Homo sapiens: one gene and its partners. The protein of the gene in region 2 purifies or fractionates together with the protein of the main gene of each other region. This does not show direct contact. Each region holds a gene or a part of one and is shown on either strand. Other genes may lie near its edges.

Region 1 (3,517 bases), on a different chromosome or scaffold from region 2:
TATTCAAGCTATTCTTCACTAATCAAAACTATACCTTCTGGAAGAATTCAAGGCCAGGACTGTAAAAGCAGATTAAATGAACAAATACTAGGCAATTATTCAGTAATAACTAAGTTTTCATATACTTTTTAACTTGTTTCTACAATGGTACATAAAATTATTTAGGTTAGCACACCCCACCATGCACGACTAATTTTTGTATTTTTCGTAGGGACAGGGTTTCACCTTATTGGTCAGGCTGGTCTTGAACTCCTGACCTCAGGTGATCCACCCGCCTGGCCTCCCAAAATGCTGAGATTATAGGCGTGAACCACTGCACCTGGCCAGGACATACTTTAAATTCTTAAAAATTGTAACCATTTCTCATTTGTCACAAGATCTAAGAGAATGCTATACAGTGTAATGAAGTTCTGAATTTTCTTTCAGATGTTTACAGGTTTTTCTTTTATGCCTTTAATATGTTATTAAAGTTTAAATGTAAAAAGGTGGGGGTTTTTTTGGTGCTACCCATCCCCCTTCTCCAGCCACTAGGAAGAAAGCTGTGTGTGTGTTCCTGGAGTGGCTTACACACAGCTTGTAGCATCCAGGGTGGGCAAAAATAAGCCTGTTTTCCAAATACTGGGTATTTGTGCTCTGATCACTGATTGCTGCTTCTAATCATAGAGGTGAAAAGAGATGGCAGCCATTGTTGTTATAGCTCCCCTCATTGCAAAAATGGGTAAAGGCATTTAATAGACACTTCTTCAAAGATATTAAAATGGCCAATAAGCACATCAAAAGATGCTCAGCATCACTAATCATTAGGGAAATGCAAATCAAATCTATAACACGATACCACCTCATGCCTCTTAGGATGACAATTATCAAAGAAACAAAACAACAACTGTGGGCGAGAATGTGGAGAAATGGGAACCCTTTTGCAGTGTTGGTGGGAATGTAAAATTGTACAATCGTTGTGGAAAATGGTGTGGTGTTTCCTCAAATAGTTAAAAATATAATGATCATATGATCTGGCAATTTCACTTCTGGGTATATACTCAAAAGGACTGAAAGCAGGGTCTCAGAGATACTTGTATATCCATGTTTTTAGCAGCATTATTCACAATAACTGAGATGTGGAAGCAACCAAAGTGTCCATCAGTAGATGAATGGATAAGCAAAATGTGGCATATACATACAGTGGATATCATTCAGTCTTAAAAAGGAAGGACATTCTGGCACATGCTGCAGTGTAGATGAACCTTGAGGACATTATGCTGTGTGAAACAAACCAATCACAAGAAAACAAACACTGTGTGATTCCACTTATCTGAGATACTTAGGGTAGTGAAAATCACAGATACAGAACGTAGAATGGTGGTTGTCAGCACTTGGCGGGGAGGGTGGAATTGGGAGTTGTTTAACGGATATAGAGTTTCGGTTTTGCCCTGTGAAAAGTGTTCTGAAAGTGGATGGTGGTGGTGATTGTACCATATAAATGTACTTAATACCACTGAACTATACTGTTAAAAATTGTTCAGATAGTAAATGTTATGTATATTTTACCACAATAATAATTTTGGGGGAAAACTATTGAGGCCATTCATAAATACTGTGTTTGTATATGTCCTGGCAACAAATTTATTCCATTCCATACAAATGTCTCATTATGTGTTGTGCTGTGATTTAGCTGGCTATATTAGTTTGCTAATGATGCTGTAACACAAACTGGATGGCTTAAACAACAGAAATGTATTCTAGTTCTAGAGGCTGGAAATCTGAAATCCAGGTGTTGATAGGATTGGTTCCTTTTGAAGGCTGTGAGGGAGAGAGTATTTTATGCCTCTCCCCTAGCTTCTGTTAGCCACAGGCCTTCCTTGGCTTGTAGATGACGTTCTCCCTGTGTCTTCATGCATCTTCCCTCTCTACACGTCTGTCTCTGTGTCCAAGTTTCCCCTTTGTGTAAGGACACCAGTCATATTGGATTAGTGTTCAACTTAATGACCTCATGATCACTGTTTGCACATAAGGTCACATTCACAAGTACTGGGACTTCCAACATCTTTTGGGAGGATACGATGAAATCTGTAACACTGGCCGATAATTTTATAAACATTTATGTTATTTCCAGTTTTTCTGTGTTTAAGTTAGCCTTGTGGGGCATATTCTTGTATATATATCCTTTGTGTTTTTGTGATTAGAAGTAGATTTGCGAGGTCAGAGGATACACACAATTTTGCTGTACATTATGAAAGTAACCTCCAGAAAGTATATGCCCATTTATAGTCCCACTGTCAATGTACAAGTACGCACCCGTTTTCGACACAGTAAATAACACATTGGTTTTTAAAATCTTTTGAGTCTTTGTCAGTCTTTTTTATTGTTTTTGTTTGTTTGAGATAGGGTTTCACCCTGTCACCCAGGCTGGAGTGCAATGGCACAGTAATGGCTCACTGCAGCCACTACCTCCCAGGCACAAGTGATCCTCCCACCTCAACCTCCCAAGTAGCTGGGACCACAGGCACGTGCCATCACACCCAGCTAATTTTTTTATTTTTATTTTTTTGTAAAAATGAGGTCTCACTATGTTGCCCAGACTTCTGTTTGTTTATTGCAGTAAAAACAGTGAAAATTTACCATCTTAACCAGTTCCAAGTGTACAGTTCAGTGGTGTTAAGTATGTTCACGTATTTGAATATAGATTCACAGATGGCCAGAACTCTTCTCAGCTTGCAGATCTGAAACTCTATCCCTATTAAATAACTCTCCATTCTCCCCTCCCCACAGCTCTAGGCAGTCACCATTCTACTTTCTGTGTCTATGAATTTGACTACTCTAAATACTTCATATATGTAGAACCATACAGTATTTGTCTTTTTGGGACTGGCTTATTTCACTTAGCATAAGTGTCCTCAAGGGTTATCCACATTGCAGTATGTGATAGGATTTCCTTTATTTTTAAGACTGAATAATATTCTATTGTATGTGTTTATGCTACATTTTGTATTTATTAGAGAGGATTTGGAAAGATTAGAAAAAGATAAGAATGTAGGAGAGGTACTTTGGAACCAAAAGCTTGGGGGTTTCATTCTCTCCATCTCAGATAGTGCTTTTTTTGAGACCCAGTTTCATTCTTGTTGCCCGGGCTGGAGTGCAATGGTGCAGTCTTGGCTCACTGCAGCCTCCGCCTCTCGGGTTCAAAGATTCTCCTGCCTCACCCTCCCGAGTAGCTGGGATTACAGGCATGTGCCACCACACCCAGCTAATTTTGTATTTTTAGTAGAGACGGGGTTTCACCCTGTCAGCCAAACTGGTCTCGAACTCCTGACCTCAGGTGATCCACCCGCCTCGGCCTCCCAAAGTGCTGGAATTACAGGCGTGAGCCACCGCACCCAGCCTCAGATAGTGCTTATGCCTACTATAGCTGAGCTTATTTGTTTTGTTTATTTTCTGAGTTTTCTATTAATATTACGTCTCTGTTCCTCAGAATGGTTTTCCTTTGCCTTCCCAGCAATACCTTCCAACTGTTAGACTGGTC
Region 2 (3,820 bases):
CAAAGGCCAGTTACAGCTAGGAAGTCTTTCTAGAGCTCTAGGAGGAAAGGTGAAAGGAAGGGAAAGAACAACAAAACAGAGAGAGGGAAGAAAAAGAAAAACCTCTCCAACAGCTATGCTTTATTTCATTCATAGGAATGAGTCTTTGCCCTAACATGGCTTTATACTACAAATGATAACTACTGTTCATCAAGCAGCTATGTGCTATGTGTTTCACATGCATGGTATCATTTGATTGAATCCTCACTAAAACTGTAAGGAAACCACTATCATCTTGAAGACATCAAGATCTAGTACTTACCCATGGATATATACATAGAAATTAACCTTGCTAGGACTTGATAGTTCTTTGGAATCTAGGGCCCCCGCACTTGACCTTCATATTGTACTGTCTCCCGAAGAACAATACATGTATCTTGTGGACCATGGGCAAGCTGCAATTTAAAAAATGCTGTTTCCTTGCTCGTGCCTTGGTTGCTAACCTTTCTCACTTAAATCCTATCAAACAACTTATTTGGAGTCAATGGATAGTGAGAATGCAAAAGAAAAAGTGGTGAGCACACAGTGTGCAGAACTGGAATCATAAGAGAGGCACCTTGGAGGGGGCCACAAGTAAATGCTGAAATATCAAGTAGCTGTGGTGTGAGTCTTGTTTTCACTAAAACTATTTTTAAGGAGGAGTTACTACATGTATTGTAACCCCATCCTCTATCCCACTCCCTACCTCATATGTAATACTGCTCCACAAATGGAAGGGTACAGAATTCAGATCCTGGTTGCCCCTCTCCCCAAAGGAAAAAAAAAAAAAAAAGATAGTCAAGGACGGTCTCTATGGAAGGACCCAGAGAATCATTTCATCCAGTATCATGGGATGTGAGCACCCTTCAGCAACCCCCTCCATTTCCCAAATCATCTTGCAGCCTTAGTAAAAGAGAGGAAAGAGATTTACCTGCTTCTATTGAGGTTGAAGCCTGAAAGTCATGTATAACCTTTGAAGCACTGTAATGGTTTTAATCACAGGAATAGCATCTTTTTGAGAGGCAGGAGAGAGAAAGGAGCTGAACCACTCTGCAAATATTAACCCGGCTATTTTGGAGCAATGGCTATTGCCTTTGAAATCTTTCATCATGGGTCTATACTTAGAATTCAGATGAGCGCAGGGGGAGGGGAATAGGGCAATGTTAATCCCCAGTTGTTTTGAAGTTGTCCTGTAAGCAGGTTAGTATCTAAACTGCCCAAAATGGAAGGGTTCAATGCTTTGTTTAAGTTATGTGATTCTCTCTGTGTAACCTGGTCTGCACATAGATTGTCACAACACTCTGGGAGGTGACACTTCTCAGTTTTCTTTCAAACTAGATGTTCTAGAGAGCACTAGCTGCAATCACATTGGGAGACTGATGCTCCATGACAGCTAAAAGTTGGATTGAGTTTCAGGAGCTACTATATATAAAGCTGGGTCGACTTATGTCACTGCACTAATTAAATGCCATCTGGGTGGTTCCTCTGGGTTTTTGAGTCCATCACCCAGTTCAGATCGAGTCAGAGGCCAAGGAGGAGAACATGATGATGGACCTTTTTGAAACTGGCTCCTATTTCTTCTACTTGGATGGGGAAAATGTTACTCTGCAGCCATTAGAAGTGGCAGAAGGCTCTCCTTTGTATCCAGGGAGTGATGGTACCTTGTCCCCCTGCCAGGACCAAATGCCCCCGGAAGCGGGGAGCGACAGCAGCGGAGAGGAACATGTCCTGGCGCCCCCGGGCCTGCAGCCTCCACACTGCCCCGGCCAGTGTCTGATCTGGGCTTGCAAGACCTGCAAGAGAAAATCTGCCCCCACTGACCGGCGAAAAGCCGCCACCCTGCGCGAAAGGAGGAGGCTAAAGAAAATCAACGAGGCCTTCGAGGCACTGAAGCGGCGAACTGTGGCCAACCCCAACCAGAGGCTGCCCAAGGTGGAGATTCTGCGGAGCGCCATCAGCTATATTGAGCGGCTGCAGGACCTGCTGCACCGGCTGGATCAGCAGGAGAAGATGCAGGAGCTGGGGGTGGACCCCTTCAGCTACAGACCCAAACAAGAAAATGTAAGCCTAGATGCTGCCGGGGCAGGGAAATGCGAAGGCTGATTAAACGCCTTCCGCGGGGCCTTAACCTCCAGCTGCTTGGTCTTTTTTCCCTTCCCCCTTTCTCGCCCGCCCCTCCCGCTCCGTCTCTAATGAACCCCCAGTGACCCAAGAAGACCGGGTGCTTGCAATAGGCAGGAAATGCGTACCCGGCCCGAGGAAGCAGGAAAGCCGCCCCCCACCCCACCCCAACCCCGGAACCGATGTTTCTTTCCTAATCTGCCGCTGCCTTGGTTTTCCCTCCAGCTTGAGGGTGCGGATTTCCTGCGCACCTGCAGCTCCCAGTGGCCAAGTGTTTCCGATCATTCCAGGGGGCTCGTGATAACGGCTAAGGAAGGTAAAGTAAAAGGGCTCTGGGCCGCACCAGAGAAAATCCGGGAGGTGGATAGGATGCTTGGGCCGAGAGGGCTCGAAGCGAGAGCAGGGACGCGCCCTGCGAAAAGGGCGCTCTTTGCGCGCCGGGACCAGGCCTTTCCTCGCTGCCAAAGCGGCCTCGCGCGGGGCGCGGAGCTGCTTCGTGTTCCTTCTTTGGGTGCTATGTTTGTGTGTTGTTTTTTCGCTCAGGAGGAGCAAGTATTGATTCGTCAGCCTCGAGTAGCCTTCGATGCCTTTCTTCCATCGTGGACAGTATTTCCTCGGAGGAACGCAAACTCCCCTGCGTGGAGGAAGTGGTGGAGAAGTAACTGAGCCTGCGCTTGAGACCTTCTCCACGCAGCAGGAAGATCCCACCGACCCTTCCTGGCCTAATCCTTTAGATTAGGTCACATTACATTAACATTTAGGAACCCAGACCGAAAAGTTGCTGAAAGGGAAGGAGACACATTCACAAAGAAACGTTGCGAAAATTGCGAAATCTGTTGTGCATGCTCAAATGAAAACGCCTTTCGGCTTTGGGCTTTTATTTTTTTGGAACTGCGAGTGGCTTAGGTCTAGCCTCATTTTGTTTTTGTTTGGTTGGTTTTATACTATATTAACTTTTATTACGGTGATCCTTTTGTGCCATGTTCAAAAGAAGTTCATTCCTGTCTAAAGTGGGAAAGTTGCATTTAATGTTAGGGGTATTTAATGTATTTTTGTAAATAGTTTAACACTTTCTTTTTTTACGTAAACCTGAAATATATTTTAAATGTGGAATGATGTATATAAAATGTGCGAGGATCCTGGTATTGTAATATTAAAAAGAAGTTTCTATATGAACAAAGTTGGTCCTAATTTGATGGAACTGGAAAAATATGTTTGGAGGCATGTGTACAAAAATAAAGAGGAGCCATATTTTAATTTAGACACCACACAAGCCCATTTATTTGGGTGTTTCCTTACATGCCAATTGAAAGGAAATTTGGCTTTCCTTAGTCTGAATTAAACTGGATACTGTTCTCTCTCTCGTAGACCTCACACTTGTCATTGGAAGTGAATAGTGCCCAGAAGAAAAATGTCATTTTTCCTTTTATCAGCATCTTTTTCCGTCTGGTTTTACACTCCTATACCTGGAGATCTGGGTGAGATTTACTTACCCAAAGTTAACAATGGAATTTTCAATCTAGGAAAATATGGTTGCAAGAAATTACCACACCAAAACTGTGCTCATTTCCCAAAAAGATCTTCAGCGGATTTACCCACAAACGGCCTTCCCTCTTAGCCTTCCCAGGCCGCTCTTGTCCTGAAGTGTGGATCTGGAGTTCCCGGGGCTGCATCCGGCATC
Region 3 (4,212 bases), on a different chromosome or scaffold from region 2:
CCCAGAGGGTCACGTCAGGGAACTGTGGGTGTGGATAGGGCGACGGTTGCATCGTGGTCTCCATGACGCCCGTGAGAGCCGCGCCAGGGTCCTCGGCCTCCAGGCCACGCAGGGCATTGATGAGGGAGGACTTGCCCGCGCCCGACTCGCCCGTGACGCCCACCTCCAGGCGGATGCTTTCCGTGGAGGCCAGCAGCTCCTGGAGGTGAGAGGCGGCCTGGGGGAGGTCACCCGACTCAAAGGCTGTGCGCAGGGCCTCCAGCCTTTCCTTGGCCATAAGGATGGTGTTTTCCTCCTCCCCAGGCACCACGGGCAACTTTGAAGTAGCCATGGTGGCCAGTGGTTCAGAGGGTGGCGGGGGACAGGGGAGAGTCACAGGATGCGTGATCCTCAGCGCCTGCAGAGGAGAAGGGAGCCATTCACACCTCCTGGGCCTTGGCATGGGGCAGGGAGAGACAGATACCACGGATGTGAAGGGAGTCGCCCTGGAAGCCCACAGCTCTCTTTTTCCTTCAAGAATTGGGGACACATTTTTGGCACAAGTTAGAGGGCTTTGGGGTCTGGCAGGCCCAGGTTCACATCCCTTTTCTGCCACTAACTTGCTGTGTGACCAGGGGCAAAATGAAGCACCTCTCTGGGTAATGGGCATGACCACCAAGCAGCCTCTTGGAGCACTATTGGAGTCTCCAGGGTAACCTAGGCACAGGTCAGTTTTCTGGGTGTATGTGTGCCCTGGAGGGTTCTGTGCTTAGAATGGCCCAGTGCTTGGTTTAATGCTCTGCTGACACTAGCTGAAATTGTTTGTTTGTTTGTTTGTTTGTTTGAGACAGGGTCTCTCTGTCATCGAGGCTGGAGCACAGTGCTACGATCATGGCTCATTGCAGCCTTGATCTCCTTGGCTCTAGCAATCCTCCCACCTCAGCCTCCTGAACAGCTGGGACCACAGGCGCATGCCACCATGCCCAGCTACTTTTTAAATTTTTTGTAGAGATGGGAGTCTCACTATGTTGTCCCAGCTGGTCTTGAACTTCCGAGATCAAGGTCCTCCTGCCTCAGCTTCCCAGAGCGCTGGGATTAAGGGCATGAGCCACTATGCCTGGCCTGAAATTCTTTATAATATTTGAACCAGGGGCCCCATATTTTCATTTCGTACTGGGCCTTGCAAATTATATAGCCAGGGCAAATTACATAGCCAGGGCTGCATAGGAAAGGGTGGTACAGGCCCATTCAGAGGAAACAGCTGCACTCCTGCGGTGGCTGGGATTGGAGGGTAGGGTGGAGGGGACCCAGACCCGGAGCCAGACTGCCTGGGATCAAATCCTGGCTCCACCACATACTTACTGAGTGATGTGAGGCAAGTTACTTAACTCTCTCCTCACTCTCCTCATCTGAACACTGAGAATGATACCTACAATCCTGGCAAACCACCTCCTAGGATCTCTGTGACTTGAATGAGTTATGACATAAAGCAGCCCATAAAACGGCGCCTGGCTCAGGGCAGGTGCCTCGTGTCATTGGCATCACCATCATCGTCATTATTCTTATCATTAGTAATATTCTTAGCTGTGTGACTTTGAGCAAGTCCTCGCCCTGTCTGAGCCTCAGCTGCCCCGTGGGGGATACTCCTCCCCACCTCGCAGGGCTGCTGTGATGCCCACAAACCCCGTTCAGCTAGCCCTAGGCTGACTTTGGGTTCAGACGCCCTTGGGTTCGGGAAGCCAGACATGGGGACCACCTGGACACCAGGAGTCATTTCCATGAAACCCCACCCCTGCCATGGCAGCCCTTGCCTCCCGGGGTTCAGTTCCCCTCCCACCGCCCAGAGCTCCTGTCGTGATGGTCCCCCCTCAGATCCCTCCTCCTCACCAGGAGCTTCCCTGGTCCTCCCTCTTCCCACTCACCCTCCTCTGGCCCATCATCTCTAAAATACATTTACTCACTAAGGGTCTTCAGGGTGCCCTGGGAGAGCTGCTCATGTCTGGGATCACTGTCCCCATTTGACAGGGAGAAGGACTGAGGCTCAGACAAGACAAATGAGGTCTCCTCATCCAGAGGCATAGCCAGGACCCCAACCCAGGTCCCCAGGCTCCTTCACCCACCTAGAGAGCTACTCTCCCTTCAGCTGCATGTCCCTGCCTCCTGCATTGTCTCCTTGCCCCCTGCACCCCGTCTCTTCACCTCCTACCACTCACCCCATCCTCTGCTACCCCACTCCACCCCCCACAGAAATATGTCCTTAAGACATTGTTCCCGGCTGGGCATGGTGGCTCACGCCTGTAATCCTAGCACTTTGGGAGGCCGAGGTGGGTGGATCACTTGAGGTCAGGAGTTCGAGACCAGCCTGGCCAACATGGTGAAACTCCATCTCCACTAAAAATACAAAAATTAGCCAGGTGTTGTGGCGCATGCCTGTAGTCCCAGCTCTTGAACCCAGGAGGCGGAGGTTGCAGTGAGCCAAGATTGCACCACTGCACTCCAGCCTGGGCGACAGAGCGAGACTCCGTCTCAGAAAAAAAAAAAGGAAAAAAAAAAGACATTGTTGCCTCCAGATCTGAGCCTCCTATCCTGGGTGTGCCCTCTCCCTAGTATGGTCTGCGGTGGGAAGAGTAGGAACCTGGAACAGGTCCTGGCAGCAAGGGGCAGACAAGTCAGTGGTTGGAATTTGGGCTGAGGGGGTCCGGATTAGACCATAAGCTCCTGCTCCGCCCACGCACAGGGGCCCAGCGAGAGAGCCCTGGGGGACTCACCTGCCCTGCAGGCTCTCCCTCTCCCCTCACACTCTCCCCACTGATAGGATCTCCTTCCCTCTTAGCCAAGGTCAGACACCGTTGCTAGGACCCATTATCATAGCAAGCAGCAGCTTATTGGTCAGCCAGACCTGGTGCAATAATGCGACAGTGATGTCAGGGGGTGGGGCCCGGAGGTGGAGCAGGGACCCCAAGCCCCAGCTGCTCATGGGGTCACCACCCACTCACACTGGGCCCTCCAGTTCCCCTGAAGACTCCAGAGAGATCTTTCTAACACCAAGACCTGTTCAAAATCCTCCATGGTCTCCATCACCCCCCAAGGACAAAGTCTCAGATTCACAGATTGGTTTCCAAGGGCTTGGCCCTGCTACCACTCCACCCTCCACCCAGGGGACTGTCAGTTCCCCAGAGAAGTGTGAAAGTTGATGATACAAATTCGGTCATTGCTGGTGGGCACAGTGGCTCACGCCTGTAATGCCAGCACTTTGGGAGGCCGAGGCGAGTGCATCACTTGAGGCCAGGAGTTTGAGATCAGCCTGGGCAATGTGGTGAAACTCCATCTCTACTAAAAATACAAAAATTAGCCAGATGTGGTGCATGCATGTAGTCCCAGCTACTCGGGAGGCTGATCTGCTATCTTGTAAGCCCAATAATTTAGTCATTGATTTCTTTTTTTTCTTTTTTTGAAACAGTGTCTTGCTCTGTCACCCAGGCTGGAGTGCAGTGACACAATCTTGGCTCACTGCAACCTCCGCCTCCTGGGTTCAAGTGATTCTCCTGCTTCAGCCTCCTGAGTAGCTGGGACTACTAGCATGCACCACCAGGCTTGGCTAATTTTTTTTTTTTTTTTTTTTTTTTAGTAGAGGTGGGGTTTCACCATGTTGCCTAGGCTGGTCTTGAACTCCTGACCTCAGGTTATCCGCCTGCCTCGCCTCCCAAACCTCCTGACCTCAGGTTATGCCGCCTCCCAAAGCGCTAAGATTACAGGTGTAGCCACTACACCCGGCCCCTTCTTGTCCTTTATAAGTGTCTCTGTCCTGTCTCCCCTCCGGGCTTCCTCTCTGCCCAGGCCAGGCTCCACAGGGCCTTCTCCATTCTCCTCTTGTAGGGAATTTACAATAACGCTACTCAGAGGATTTTCCTGACCATCTGCAGGCCAGTTCTGGAAAGGAGCCTCTGAGAACAACTAAGGAGAGAGAGGCCCAGAAGGGGAATAGACTAGCTCAGAGCCACCCTGAGAGCTGGGGAAGAGTGGGCTGTTGGCCGCATAGTACAGAGTTCTTAAGCCACAGGTGAAAGGGAGGTGCAGGGCAAAAGACACACGACTCACTCATGCTCTCACTGACTGACACAAACACACAGAGCTGAAGAGAGTGAACAACATGGTTCTCAGACTTCCCCGGACACCGAGCACACAGACCAGCAGACAGCAAGGACTCCTTCCCAAAATGCATGGACACGCACC
Region 4 (3,517 bases), on a different chromosome or scaffold from region 2:
CTTAGAGCCAGATGAGCTCAAGGGTCTGCTTTGTCATTTTTAGAGAACCTCATGGTTGTGAAAGCTCACTCAGCTTTGCTCAGAGGTTTATATCCTCCTCATTACTTCACAGACACCTAGGACTCTGTTTTATTACAGGGTTGAATAAATATTAGCTTTGCAATTAAAGATAACAGTGTCCATTACATGTCAGACACGAGGGCCAAGCGTTGCATATATTACCTAATTTGTTTTTCATTGCAGAACTATTATTCTCTTTTTAAAAATCAGGAAACCGGGCTTTGAAAGGTAATTTTACCCAGCTTACCCAGCAAATACAGTGTAGACCTGGACTTCCGACTCAGGTCTCATTGGCTCTGAGGCCCCTGGGCTCGCCACTGCTCTTTGCTGACTCGTTGTCTTTGATTAAGACACTGAGTTTCAGTCTGTTCCTAGGCCCTGAAAGGATGGTAGATAGGCCACATCTGCTTTTCTTTCGGAGGAAACAAATATTATTTTATTGCATTATGCTAAAGGCTGTCACAGATTTATAAAATTGTAGCAAAGTGCCTGAGGACATGAAGGGCCTAAATCAGAGGAATAGTAGATGAAACTTCACAGGAATATATCAGACAACATAGGCGTCTTTAGAGAAAAGGAAGGGGAACCAAGAGTTCCGGTCCTGCTGCCCACTGTCCTGCTTGGACCCACAAGTGAGCCAGGGCCTCCTGTGGCCCCTGCTTACCTCTGTGCTCCCTGTCCTGGAGGGGTAGAGTGACTTAGGTGCTTTTGATGGAACGATTAACATCACGCCTGGCCTGGCGTGGCTCCGTCTCCCGTCTTTCTAGGAGATGGGAAATAAGGTCCCAGAGTTTTGTGGTGCTTTGACTCAGCTTTCGGTCTGCTGAGACTCACTCACAAATGTGTCATTCCGTTCTGCCATCCGCTTTGTTTTCTTTCTCTTTTCTCAGTTCTCAGAATCTTTTTTCCTAATTATTCAACCAACTTGTTGACATCCTTCTCATGCCTATGACAGGAAGGCAGTCCTCACCCCAGAGTGGCCCTAAGCTATGTCTGTGGCTCAGGAGCCCTCTCCACGGGGCCTCTGCCTGGGATGGTCCCTGTGATGAGTTAAGTGAATAAATGATGAGATATACGTGAGAGAATTTCACCTGGTAACACCCTTTGTTTTTTGGACCAGGATTCCCAAAGAAATTACAGTGAGTAATATTCACCAGGCCATTTGCAACATTCCTTTTCTGGACTTCCTCACAAACAAACACATGGGAATATTGAATGAGGACCAGTGAGCGGAGTGAGGTGCCCTGGAGAAGCAGGCTTTGAAGGCACAGCGAAGCTGTAACTGAGGACCCTGCTGCTCGGGAAGGAGGTGGTTTCCAGTGTGACTCGGCATGTCATGGCTACCCAACCTTTGCCGCTGCCTGTTCCCACGTGTCACCAGCACGCTGCACTCCAGATGAAATCCTCCTAGGACAGGAGTTTGTTTCCTGAGTGTGGAGTGAGGCTGTCAGTGGATCCGTGCTTTGTCGGCCAGCGTTTCTGCAGTCTTTGTAAAGGCCCCACGAGAGCGGGCCAGGCCGTGTGCCTCAGGCCCTTCTCCCTGGGTGTGCTTAAGGGGGCTCCTTGGGCCCGCCTCCCCAGGAGGTAGAAAATGAGTGGCAGGCTAGAGATTTCACCCATTTTGTGGGCTGGAGTTACCAGTAGCTCCAGCAGTTACCCTGAAGAGAGATTGGGCTTCAGCCTTCAGCAGGTGGTTCTCTCCCATGCCTGGCCTTGGTGTGGAGGGGCTGTACTCTGAGCCCAAGTGAGTCAGCTATAGGAAGAGGCCATACCTAGAGCCAAGAACCATGAAGGCCTGAGAGACGGCAGACTGAGCAGAATTCCTTTTTTGAGCACGAGAGCATTACTAGAACCATTGTCAAAGCAGTGGCAAGGGACGGAGAGGTCCCAACAGGAGTCAGGAAGAGGTTTGATTATAACCAAGAAAACTCACTATGCTAGGAATAGACTGTGTGCACCAGTCCCAGACACTTGGCAGAAGTGTAGCAGCGTTACACATGTGTGCGAAGCAGATCGCAGGTTCCACGCCATCTGCATGGCCTGCAGGAGCTTCTGCTGCTGACCCCATGCTGAGTGGCCAGTGGGGAGCGGCGCCCGGCAGGCTCTTCTGGGGTCGTCTGTCCTATCCGTGGATTGTATATACTCTTCTCTGTTAAGGAGTTTTTCCCAAGAAGAAAAGTATTTAAAAGAAATACCAGTGAGTGCCTTAAAGTTGGAGAAGTAACTGCCCATGCCCAGAAATAAGGATGCCAGTGCCCAGAAGCAGTGAGATTAGTCTGTGTCCACAAGCAGAGGCCCCCTCGATGGGAGGGAGTGGCAGGCAGGAGAAGGTGGCGCTGCCAGGTGCCCGGGTCTATTGGAGGCGCCCCATCTCAGACTTCCTAACACAGCCTGTGTGGAAGGCAGAACAAAGAATGCATGCCCAGTCAGAAATCTGTTCTATTCTGCTCCAGGAAAATCGGAAACCTGTGAGTCAGAGTCAGAGAAACTTACCCAAGCAACGTAATTCCTGTTTTCATGGGTCCTGTAGATGTTTGAGTCAGGAAGGTAAGGCGGGGAGTGACTGAATAAACTCTGCCTTTTAAATTGAGCATCTGGGCCGGGCATGGTGGCTCACGCCTGTAATCCCAGCACTCTGGGAGGTCGAGGTGGGTGGGTCACCTGAGGTTGGGAGTTCGAGACCAGCCCGACCAACATGGTGAAACCCCGTCTCTACTAAAAATACAGAAAATTAGCTGGGCATGGTGGTGTGTGCCTGTAATTCCAGCTACTCGGGAGGCTGAGGCAGGAAGAATCACTTGAACCCAGGAGGCGGAGGTTGCAGTGTGCCAAGATCATACCACTGCACTCCAGCCCTGGTGACAGAGGAGACCCCGTCTCAAAAATTGATTGATCAATTCAGCATCTGAGGGCTGCAAGTACAGAAGGAATCTATTCTCAGCAGGGCATAGGGCACGCACTGGCTTAACAGTTTAGTATATAAGGCTCAAATAGTCTATACCTGAACTGCTATAAGCAAGGTCGATAGGGAAGTGGATAGATTGCTTCAGCAAAGTGAACTGTGAGATCTCCAGGACAGAGGGAGAAAGATCTGATCCAAATGAGAACAGATTGGTTATTGCAGGTATCACAGCCTAAAGAAATTATCTTTTTGCAAAAGAAATATTAAATGATTTAGCAGTCTCCACGTGTGTTAATGTTTCAAACGTGTATCATAATGTGTATAATTGTGTAACAAAATTGTCTACAATAAATCTTTTGGTATTTGTGGTGGGTGTTTCTGAGTTTGAAGCATGGTACTCAGGCAGGGTTCTCCCTGCACTGGGATGAGGTGATGGTGTAGAGTCTTATTGATATGTTTAAATTAATTCCTCTACTTCTTGCCAAAAAAAAAAAAATGTTGCAACCGTATAAGATAAAGGATTACAGTTACATAAAAGTCTAAAAAAAATTTGGA
Region 5 (2,804 bases), on a different chromosome or scaffold from region 2:
TGTTTAGAAAAATCTAAGCATCATTTTTTTTTCTTTATAAAATACTGTACAAATTATGTACAGCCTTGGGAACCCTGACAGAAAAAAAACCAACCAATTTACCAATACCAATTACTGTCTGTAACCAACATCTACCTTATATTCTGCAAGTTACCCTCTAAAGAGGATGACGTTAACAATATATAATAGTAATATTGCAGCAACATGCTCATCCTTGGCAATACATATTTTCCCATCAACTACCCGCTGCTAATGAGCCTGAGTGATTTCGGAAAGAGGTGCTCTGGGGATTTTCTGCTTAGTTTTTTTTCATAACCTTTCCATCCTAGGGTATTGAACAAGTGAAGTGACAACAGACAAAGGAAAAACGGAATCTGGTATATGAGGCCAAGGGGTGAAAACACACATACACACACCCTGGACTGACTATAGTAGACACTGTGGTTGTTTATGCAAGCAGCTACCTATCCACTACTTCTCTGTGTGGCCCAAGCCAATGGCTTCCCGGTCTTGTCAGTGACTGAAATGGGCATGGGTCCAGTTCTGGCCAATGAGTAAAGGAGAGGTCTGCTGGAGATTAAGAGGAGAGCTTCTGGAAAAAGCTTCCTCACATCTTTTGAGAGAAAGCCCTTAAAGAAGGCAGTTCCTCAGGATACTGCCGTATTGGGTAAGACACCTGAAAGTGCTGTAGCCATCTTGCCATCTGCCTGGGAAAGAAGTTAACACCAAGCAGAGTTAAGAGGGGAAAGAAACCTGTTTTCTCACAATTATGATTTAGCCACTGAATCAATTAAATCTGAAGCTTGTGCTACCATGGACTTCCTATTTTATAATTTACATAATGTTTAAGCCAGTTTTGAGTTCAAATTTCTTAGTTGAAGCTAACAACATTCTCACTGATCCACTAATGAGCCTTTTAAACTTTGGCCTAATGAATTCTTTCTAGACTTTTTCTTAGTTTCACACAAGCACTAGCTTTTGAATGGCAAATTAGTAAATGAGTATATTTGACAAAGAAACTGTGAATGTCCAAGACAAAATGTTCTCATGAGCATTTCTGACTACTGAGATTTTAAAGACAGCATTAAAACTCACATTTTCCTTTGTGTCAAAAGTTGATTCAAAGAACATCTAGGTATGCTTATCAAGTTACAATAAATGGGAAATCATTAAGTATTAGAATTAGTAATTAAGAAATAATAGAGCTCAGATAATTATGCTCCTTCCTTTGCCAAACCAAGCTGGATACCTGTGGTAGGGCCTATGGGCAAATAAGGAATCAATGTTTAATTTGGCGATTGATCAGTCTCCTAACTTCCTAAGAGGTGGCTTTTTATACACTTGATGCAAATATAATTGCCCTTGGCCAGGCGTGGTGGCTCATGCCTGTAATCCCAGCACTTTGGGAGGCCGAGGCGGGTGGATCAAGAGGTCAGGAGATCAAGGCCATCCTGGCTAACATGGTGAAACCCAGTCTCTACTAAAAACACAAACAACTAGCCGGGTGTGGTGGCAGGTGCCTGCAGTCCCAGCTACTTGGGAGGCTGAGGCAGGAGAATGGCATGAACCCGGGAGGCGGAGGTTGCAGTGAGCCGAGACTGCACCACTGCACTCCAGCCTGGGCGACAGAGCAAGACACCATCTTAAAAAAAAAAAAAAAAAAAAAAAAAAAATTCCCCTTGTTCTCCTAATCGTTTAACCTGTAATATATTGATAGTTTCCATGCTATTAAACAATCAGATTACTACTGTATCATAGAACCAAAGCAAGAAATATTAGAATGAGGAAAATAAGGTCATCAGTCGCTCAGTGACTTAAAAACAGTAAAATGTGGCCTTTTGGACTTGTTTTAGCTCTGAGCAGAATATTTTGATAAAAAGAACACTTAGAAATACCATATCTACCGTGGATACACTAGATTAACTTTACTGTTTGTTTTAGGTATAAGGAAATCTCAGTACAGTTCCTGACTTATGATGGCTAGATAAGGTTTTTCAAATTTACAATGCTGTGAAAGTGACAGACATTCAGTAGAAACTGTACTTCAAATGCTGAATTTTGATCTTTTCCTGGGCTAGTGACATGTGATACGATGCTCTCTTGTGATGCTGGGCAGTGGCAGTGAGCAAAGCTCCCAGTCAGCCATGGGGTATGAGGGTAAACACCCGATACTCTACAGTGTACTGTGCTGCCAAGGGACTTTCCTCAACTGTACATGATAGGCCAGTGTACACATTCTGAACATGTTTTAGGCTAGGCTAAGCTATGATGTTTGGTAGGTTAGAGGTGTTGAATGCATTTTAGACTTAATAATATTTTCAGTTTTTGATGGGTTTATTGGGACATAACCCCATCTGTATAGAAGTATAAAAGGTGGACATTTTAACAGGTTTTGGTACCTGAGAGAAAATACTTGAGAGCACAGCACACTAAAGAAAGAGCTGGAGAAAGGTAATGCAAAATTGTCTCTCCTCACCCATTATTTTACCTTACCAGGTTCCTAGTCATGCACCGCTTAATGATGGGGATATATTCTGAGAAATGTGTTAATTTTGTCATTGTGTGAACATCATAGAGTATACTTATAGAAACCTAGATGGTACACACCTAGGCTATATGGTATAGTCTATTGCTCCTAGCATATAAACCTTATGGCATGTTTCTGTATTGAATACTGTAGGCAAGTGTAACACAATGGTATATGTGTATCTAAACACGTCTCAACATAGAAAAGATACAGTAAAAATACCATACTATAATTTTATGGGATCACTGTAATATATGCAGTTGACTGTTGACTGAAA

What was found.
Region 1: the proteins of MYF6 (region 2) and KAT14 purify together in Homo sapiens (affinity purification with mass spectrometry; 2 studies listed by BioGRID and IntAct, with this or other methods). This does not show direct contact.
Region 3: the proteins of MYF6 (region 2) and IRGC purify together in Homo sapiens (affinity purification with mass spectrometry; 2 studies listed by BioGRID and IntAct, with this or other methods). This does not show direct contact.
Region 4: the proteins of MYF6 (region 2) and YEATS2 purify together in Homo sapiens (affinity purification with mass spectrometry; one large-scale study listed by BioGRID and IntAct). This does not show direct contact.
Region 5: the proteins of MYF6 (region 2) and MBIP purify together in Homo sapiens (affinity purification with mass spectrometry; 2 studies listed by BioGRID and IntAct, with this or other methods). This does not show direct contact.

The regions. Positions count from the first base shown.
Region 1 is NC_000020.11:18,154,859-18,158,375, forward strand, and holds part of KAT14 (cysteine-rich protein 2-binding protein), read left to right. Parts: intron 1-3,517. UniProt on the Homo sapiens protein: Component of the ATAC complex, a complex with histone acetyltransferase activity on histones H3 and H4. May function as a scaffold for the ATAC complex to promote ATAC complex stability. Has also weak histone acetyltransferase activity toward histone H4.
Region 2 is NC_000012.12:80,706,160-80,709,979, forward strand, and holds MYF6 (myogenic factor 6), read left to right. Parts: upstream 1-1,474; 5' UTR 1,475-1,560; coding exon 1,561-2,079; intron 2,080-2,364; coding exon 2,365-2,455; intron 2,456-2,682; coding exon 2,683-2,801; 3' UTR 2,802-3,315; downstream 3,316-3,820. UniProt on the Homo sapiens protein: Involved in muscle differentiation (myogenic factor). Induces fibroblasts to differentiate into myoblasts. Probable sequence specific DNA-binding protein.
Region 3 is NC_000019.10:43,714,678-43,718,889, reverse strand, and holds the start of IRGC (interferon-inducible GTPase 5), read right to left. Parts: upstream 2,815-4,212; 5' UTR 2,748-2,814; intron 2,014-2,747; exon of another isoform or gene 1,941-2,013; intron 511-1,940; exon of another isoform or gene 443-510; coding exon of another isoform or gene 332-442; coding exon 1-331. UniProt on the Homo sapiens protein: Required for sperm motility and therefore male fertility, via positive regulation of spermatozoa fibrous sheath formation.
Region 4 is NC_000003.12:183,809,295-183,812,811, forward strand, and holds the end of YEATS2 (YEATS domain-containing protein 2), read left to right. Parts: intron 1-724; exon of another isoform or gene 725-1,157; intron 1,158-1,180; coding exon 1,181-1,289; 3' UTR 1,290-3,330; downstream 3,331-3,517. UniProt on the Homo sapiens protein: Chromatin reader component of the ATAC complex, a complex with histone acetyltransferase activity on histones H3 and H4. YEATS2 specifically recognizes and binds histone H3 crotonylated at 'Lys-27' (H3K27cr).
Region 5 is NC_000014.9:36,300,847-36,303,650, forward strand, and holds part of MBIP (MAP3K12-binding inhibitory protein 1), read right to left. Parts: intron 1-2,804. UniProt on the Homo sapiens protein: Inhibits the MAP3K12 activity to induce the activation of the JNK/SAPK pathway. Component of the ATAC complex, a complex with histone acetyltransferase activity on histones H3 and H4.